Homo sapiens: one gene and its partner. The protein of the gene in region 2 purifies or fractionates together with the protein of the main gene of each other region. This does not show direct contact. Each region holds a gene or a part of one and is shown on either strand. Other genes may lie near its edges.

The links.
Region 1: the proteins of ASAP2 (region 2) and PDAP1 fractionate together in Homo sapiens (co-fractionation; one large-scale study listed by BioGRID). This does not show direct contact.

Annotation. Positions count from the first base shown.
Region 1 is NC_000007.14:99,398,598-99,402,403, forward strand, and holds part of PDAP1 (28 kDa heat- and acid-stable phosphoprotein), read right to left. Parts: intron 1,828-3,806; coding exon 1,706-1,827; intron 1-1,705. UniProt on the Homo sapiens protein: Enhances PDGFA-stimulated cell growth in fibroblasts, but inhibits the mitogenic effect of PDGFB.
Region 2 is NC_000002.12:9,398,630-9,402,435, reverse strand, and holds part of ASAP2 (arf-GAP with SH3 domain, ANK repeat and PH domain-containing protein 2), read right to left. Parts: intron 2,414-3,806; coding exon 2,364-2,413; intron 1,695-2,363; coding exon 1,606-1,694; intron 1,163-1,605; coding exon 1,040-1,162; intron 1-1,039. UniProt on the Homo sapiens protein: Activates the small GTPases ARF1, ARF5 and ARF6. Regulates the formation of post-Golgi vesicles and modulates constitutive secretion. Modulates phagocytosis mediated by Fc gamma receptor and ARF6. Modulates PXN recruitment to focal contacts and cell migration.

The DNA of each region.
Region 1 (3,806 bases), on a different chromosome or scaffold from region 2:
GGAGGCTGAGGCAGGCGGATTGCTTGAGCCCAGAAGTTCAAGGCTGCAGTGAGCTACAATTGCACCACTGCACTCCAGCCTGGGTGACAGAGTGAAATCCTATCTCTAAAAAATACAAACAAAAAAAGGAATGAAGAAGTGGAGGAAGCAGCCACAGGGCATAGGATGAGGACCACAGTGGGAAACAGACACACCCAGTCTCAGGTCAACACCACATGGCCCATTCTTAGAGCAGCTCAGATGTGCACGGTGCTGCCCCCCAAGGGGACAGCCCCCATCAGTAGGGAGATGGGAATAATTGCTGGGCTCCCATGGGACAAAGTGTCAGGAATGAACCCCCTAAGTAGAGTCAGTGGTGAGGGTCATTAGCTTCCTTTTGAGGATCTTCCCAAGCTTGAGATTCTGAACTGGAGTGGATGCCCTTCAGGATGAGATCGGAGGGCCTATTTGCACTGGGTTCCTGGAAGAGCCAAGTGCTGGAGGAGGGGAGGGCCCTGCCTGGCAGGAGGCTGGGAGAGAGACTCGGCCTCCCAGAGGCCTTCAAGGTACACAGAACTGGGGAGTAATGAGAAACCAGGCATGGGAGCTAGCTAGAGGGGAGGGAGAGGGACTCCCGAGTGGGAAGAGCAGATGCCTCACTACAGAGCTGAGGAGATAATACCTGGCGAACCGCAGATCCTAGCTCAGGAGGGATGTGCCACACTCAGAAGCCTCTAAGCTGAGCCTCAGGAATGATGACTAAGGCAGCCCAAAGACTCTGCAGGGCCCTTCAGTGAAAGCAAAATGCCAGGCAGGGTGTCTCTGCAACCCCAAAGGACAGAAGGAGGGAGCAACAGGATCCCTTTTACTGGAGAGGACACTGATGCCCAGAAAGGCACAGCCTTATCGAAGGCTGCACAGCTGCCAATGGCAGAATACCACAGTGGCAGAACACCCAGGTTGCTGGGTTTTTGAAGTCAATGCCAAGAGGAAGCTACTGAAGGGGGACAGAAGGGTCCTTAGCAGCTGCAATCACACCCAAGCTCATGGCCTTCCCCACGAGGCTTTCACAGACACACCCCTCAGCCATTATCCTAAATTCCCAGTCAGGAGAGAAACTAGCAGGCTTCAACCTCTTGTAAGGCCCTTGAGGTCACCTGGTGGCTGCCAAAAGTCAGGGCACCAGTCAAGGACTGATCCTGTGCCAGGCACTTCAGTACATGATCTTGATCCTCATACGACTCTTGAGGAAGATATTTACAGCTTCATTTTCACACAGGACTTGCAGAGGCCTGGGACAGCTGGCTGAGCTGCGCTGGGCTGGACTGCCTTCTGGCCGGCACAGGCTCGCAGCCCCCTTCCAGTCCCCATGGCCACGACATTACAGATGGATGCAGGTCAGGAATGGTCAGATCAGTGGGGTAAGGGAAGTCTCCCCAGGGTGTGGTGCTCTGGAAGAGGGGAATGGAGGGCAACCCTCTGTATCCTGCACCATTACCTCAAGTGTTATGCTCAGGTCTGAGCCTGTTGTCCTATTTCCCCTGATATCATGTATCAATTGGTGAAAACAAATTCTGTGTGGCTTTTTAAAGGCTACTGGAGGGCCATTGGGGAATGAGACAGAAATAAACAGCCACAGCTCCCAGCCAGCTGGGGACCTTAGCATCCCACAGGCCAACTGCTGGCCTGTATTCCCCGTGACACAAGGCCCAGCCAGTGATGTTACCGTTCTCTCCTCGAAAGCTCCTTTGGCCCGTCCAGATCCAGTTGTGTGACCTTTTTGGTTGTCTGTGCCACCCGGTTGGGGTTCTCGATGTCGATGAGCCCTTCAACGCCTTTGCGCTTTTGCTAGAACAGGGCAAGAAGCTGGTTGTTGGAGTTCAGGTCCTGTGGAGCCCCTGAGGGCCACTCCTGCCATCTCTCAACAGCCCATCTGGATGAGGACAAACTCCTGCTCCACCCCAGCCCACGTAGTGCTCAGCCCAAGTCTCACAGTGGGTATAGCTCTCTGGAGCATCTTCATCAGCCTGGGAAGAGCCCACAGAACGGCTGCTCGGGGTCGAATAACTTGCCCAAGTCAACCAGGAAGTAGGTGGTAGATGAGAGGTGCGCCCTACCCCGACTTGCAAGCACTCACACAGCACTACTCCCCTACTTCAAGCTCGGCTTCCAAAAGCAGTTTTCCATGGAATCCCATGCCTGATTCTTCTTGCAAAAAGCGCTGGGCTGGAATCCCCAGGGCAGGGTGGGCCAAGTGTGTGCTGTCATGACTAATTCCAATTCCCACCCACCTTAGCTGATGGACTGGACTTGTAACCCAAGAATAAGCTACTGGATCACACACTCTACAGGTTTGGGACGCTGGCCCAAAAACCTGGAATCTGCACCTTCCACCTCCCCTGCAGAAGTTCCAGAAGAAGGGGGTGTGTTCTCAATGCAGCAGGTTTGGTCAAAGTTTCAGGCCCTGTCAATTCCATCAATTCTCCTTAAGGGGGCAGGGAGACAGCTTCCACTCCACAGAGCTCCCTCCACACACTTCCAGTCCAGCTGCACACTTACACCTCCACTCAGATGCCTGGCACTGTAAACTTAACATGTCCAAGACAGAACTCGAGATTCATCCTTTACCCAACCGGACCCTCCCTGCAATCCTAAGCATATCCTTGATTCGTCGTTCCTTCAGCAACCCCCAAATACAGCTTAAATTTGTCCACTCTTCTCCACTGCCATTGTCACCATCCTAGGGCAAGCCACGATTTTTTTTCTTTTGAGACAGAGTTTCCCTCTTCTTGCCCAGGCTGGAGGGCAATGGCACAATCTCGGCTCACCACAACCTCGGTCTCCTGGGTTCAAGCAATTCTCCTGCCTCAGCCTGAGTATTTGGGATTACAGGCATGAACCACCACCCCCGACTAATTTTGTATTTTTAGTAGAGACAGGTTTTCTCCATGTTGGTCAGGCTGGTCTCGAAATCTCGACCTCAGGTGATCCGCCCGCCTTGGCCTCCCAAAGTGCTGGGATTACAGGTGTGAGCCACCACACCCGGCCCAGGATTTCTGATCTGAACACTGCTCTTACTCTCAACATCCTATCATTCACTCTCCATGAAGAAGCTAAAATAATCTTTTTTTTTTTTTTTTGAGACGGAGTCTCACTCTGTCGCCCAGGCTGGAGTGCAGTGGCATAGTCTTGGCTCACTGCACTCCGCCTCCCGGGTTCACGCCATTCTCCTGCCTCAGCCTCCCAAGTAGCTGGGACTACAGGCGCCTGCCACCACACCTGGCTAATTTTTGTATTTTTAGTAGAGACGGGGTTTCACTGTGTTAGCCAGGATGGTCTCGATCTCCTGACCTTGTGATCCACCCACCTTGGCTTCCCAAAGTAAAATAATCTTTTAAAAGCATATCTGGAGGCTGGGCGCAGTGGCTCACGCCTGTAATCCCAGCCCTTTGAGAGGCCAAGGCAGGCAGATCACGAGGTCAGGAGATTGAGACCATCCTGGCTGACATGGTGAAACGCTACCTCTACGGTAGTCCCAGCTATTCGGAAGGCTGAGGCAGAAGAATGGCCTGAACCCGGGAGGCGGAGCTTGCAGTGAGCCGAGATCGCACCACTGCACTCCAGCCTGGGCGACAGAGAGACTCCATCTCCCAAAAAAAAAAAAAAAAAAAAGCATATCTGGTCATGTCTCTCAATCCCTTCAAGGCCTCCCCCAGCTGCCACTACCTACCATAAAGAAACCCCATGCCAGGCATGGTGGCTCATGCTGCTGCAATCTCAACACCTCAGGAGGGTGAAGTGGGAGGATTACTTGAGCCCAGGAGTTG
Region 2 (3,806 bases):
CTGGTCTCGAACTCCTGACCTCAAGTGTTCCGCCTGCCTCGGCCTCCCAAAGTGCTGGGATTATGGGCGTGAGCCACCGCGCCCAGGCCACAGACACTTTCAATCCATTAAGGGCAAACGAGGCCACAGGAAAGACCGGTGAACCCAGCTCTGCCAAATGAAGGCAGTGCTGCCTGGCCCTGAGAGCTCACAGCGCCTCTGGAGGCTGAAGACATGCAGTTTAAACACTAGTGGGAGTTCTGGGAGGGACAGTGACTAAAGACAGTGTCCAAACTCCTCGCACTCGACAAAGAAGTTCCCCTAAATCCTGTGAGTTCCCAGCTGAACTGTCTGCTCTGAGCTCAGTTGCGGAGCTGTGCCACTTGCGTCTACTGTGTGGTGGGCTCAGCCTGGGGCTTTCTGTCCACGCCCCATTCAAGCCGGTTCATCCACCGCCCTCACTGTCTGCAGCTGCCGCTTAGTGGGTGCTCACAAGATCACCTGCACCAGACTGTGTGTGTGTGACCTCCCTGTCACAGATGATCCCACTAATGCTTAAAGATAAAAGCAACCTGCCCCAAGCCACCAGCCCCTGAGTGGCCAAGTCTGAATTCTTAGGTGGCCGGCACTCATCTTGCTCCCACACCCTGCTGGACGCCTGGGCGGCCACAGCTTGTTTCAGGACCAGACTCAGGCCTGGGGCTCTGCGCTCTAGGTCAGCTCTCTCCAGACACCCGATTCCACTAATCCAGCAATGGGGGGTGATGACCTAGAAACTCAAGACCTCAAAATGAAGGAGTGTCATTTCAGGCCCTCATGAGTGCTGTGGAAACTGCACCCTAACAGGGGAGGAAGCCACCCTGGGGAATAATCAGGCCTGCTCAGAAGGGGGTGTCCATGGAGGAAGCAGCTCCTGAGGATGCTAAGGGGCGGAGGCACCAGGAACTACATCTGGACTGCTCAGGCTGAGAAAACCTCACCTGCAAGCCCGTCTCTCCAGCCAGGTGGGCAGGGACGTGGCTCAGCCCCCAGGAACCTCCCAGGCCCACCCTTGACTCACCCACCACTCCTGGTCCTCCTCCCCGTCCACGATGATCACATCCCCCTCGGAGAAGGTGAGCTCATCGGGGTTGTCAGCCACACAGTTATAGAGCGCTTTCACCCGCTTAGGCTTCAACTTGGTCTGGGTCAGGAGAGGGAACAACGGTTAGTGTGGCTGCAGGCCTCAGCTCTCAGGGCAGAGAGCTCAAGCACCCTGCCTTCCCCGGTCTCAGGAGTCCCGTACCTAGGCCTGAGAAGCCTGCAGATGCCAAGGTGGGGCAGGTCAGTGCAGCTCAGGAGCCAGGGAGAGAAAAGGGAAGAGCTCCCCACCAAGCAGAGAGAAGGGGCCAAGGGCTGGGAAACGAAGCGGCCGGGGCAGGGTACTCTGAGTGGGCCCATTGTGGAGCTGCGGCAGGAGGGCCAAACCCACCAGCTGCCCAGATCCAAGCAGTCAGGTACCAAGAAGAGCCCCGCCCTGCCCCAGCCAGGGGAAGAGGGGAAGACTTGCTTCCCCTGAGCCCTTGTGAAACCACCTGCACCCCCCTGGCTAGAGCAGAGAGGCAGGAAAGGGGGCTCGTCACTTACTGCCTGCGACTTCCTAGGCATGGGTGCAGGGGGCTGCAGGACCATAGCATTGGACAGAGGACCCAGAGCTTCCGTTGCAGAGAGATCCACTGTAGGGCAAAAATGAAGCAGCTTAAGACATCCCATCAATCACAGCCATGAGATGTAAACAATGTACAAGCCACAGGGTGTGTCTGAAAGCAGGTTTCCCCAGGTGTTCCGATCTGTTGAGGGGAAAGGGAACCTTCTGACTTGGATGCAGACCTTGGAGAGCTTGTGTGGCAGCGAGTGTCCCCCAGTGAGCCTGCCATGTCAGCAGGAGGGGACAGGTGAGGGGCCCCAGGACTGAGCTGCTCAGGAGCAGGGGTCTCAGAGGCCGAGGGAGGAGGGAGGATGGCAGGAGGGAGGAGGGAGGAGGAAGGCAGGGAGGAGGGTGAGAGGAGGGGAGGGGAAGGGAGGGGTGGAGGAAGGCAGGTGGCGGGGGAGGAAGGCATGAGATGGGGGAGGGAGGGGGAGAGGAGGAGAAGGGAGCAGAGGAAGGCAGGAGTGGGGGAGGAAGGAAGGAAGGAGGGAAGGAAGGAGAGGAAGAGGGCAGGAGGGGAAGGGGGCAGGAGGGGAGGGGGCAGGAGGGGAGGGGGCAGGAGGGGAGGGGGCAGGAGGGCTGTGGAATGGCAGACAGCTGGGCCCTCCCTCAGTCCTGACCACCTGGCAGGAAACATCCCCCACATTGCCCCCATGGACCAAGCAGAAACAAACTCAGTCCCAAATTAAATAATTACCAGGTCCTCTCGGTTGGCCTTTGTTGGTCAGTGGGGTGGACTTGTCAGCCCTACAAAGACAGGGAAAAAGTAGATTTACTGCTACCGGAGGGCACCTGCCCCTTTCTCATCCCCTTTTATCAGAGAACCTTCTGAGTTCAAGCTCAGAGTGTGTGAGGTGGTTTCCTCCACTGTCACTTAGCTGTCTCTTTTTTATGGGAAAAGGAAGAATGAGAGGCCCTGAGGAAAGTGCTAAATTCAACGTTTCTGATCCTAAAACCAGGGCTTTTCCAGAGCACTCTGTCCACGTGAGCCTGCCACCGATGGCCAGGGTCTGGAGTGATGCTGGGCACTGGCCACTGGCCCCGCCCCGAGTCTGCTCAGCCCCTTCCCTGCCTTGGTCCCATCACATGAAAGGGCAGGGCTGAACCTTAACCTCAGGCCCAGATGGCTTTGCCAGGACGGGTCCGAGCACTCTGGGTCAGCGCTGTCCATGCCTCTGCCGTCCCTGCTTCTGGGAACCAATGTGGCTGACCACGGGCTCAAGCCCCATCCATGAACCTCTGGGCCAGCACACCCCAAAGCCACAAGGTAGAAACACATGAGTGAGGAAGTAGTTCTCAGGGCTGGCAGAGAGGGGTCCCTCATCTCGAACCTGCCACCTGGCAGCCCTGGATAAATGGGTTCTGGAGAGTCAGCATTTTCATCTGCAAAAGGTGTGACACAAGATCCGTCAACTCCAGAGCTAAGGACCAGTGCCAGTGGCTTCAGCTCCCCGGTGGATCTCCTGGACCTAGCATAAAGCCAGGCACAGGACGGGGGCTGGAGAAGCAGAAGAGGAAGACCAGGGAGGAAGGGAAGGGGAAGGCAAGGATGGGATTCTTTCCACTGTACGCTCCCGTCTGTCGACACTCCCTTCGCTGCTCGGAATGAACCCTGTCTGGCCTCAATGCTTGCAGTCCCAGAATGAAGGGAGAGAAAACATCACATGGGTTTTGCTCATACGCTGAAGGAACTGAAAAGGAACTTTGTTTTATTCCATAAAACAAAGACCCCTCCCATTTGACCAGTCTAGCCATTTGTTTTCCATCTGTGTCTCTGGGTGTAAATGTCTCTGCAGACATCACTACACTGACCTGGCTGACCCCCTGGCCGGCAGTCATCCCTAACTACAGAACACTCGCAGGGAAGGCCTGATCCTCTGAGACAGCAGTGAGCAGACTTTTTCTTTAAAGAGGCAGATAGTAAACTTTTTAGGCTTTGTGAATTTTTTTTTTTTTTTTTTGAGATGGAGTCTTGCACTGTCACCCGGGTTAGAGTGCAGTGGCACAATCTCGGCTCACTGCAACCTCTGCCACCCGGGTTCAAGCAATTCTCCTGCCTCAGCCTCCCGAGTAGCTGGAATTACAGGTGTGCACCACCACGCACAGCAAATTTTTTGTATTTTCAGTAGAGACGGGGTTT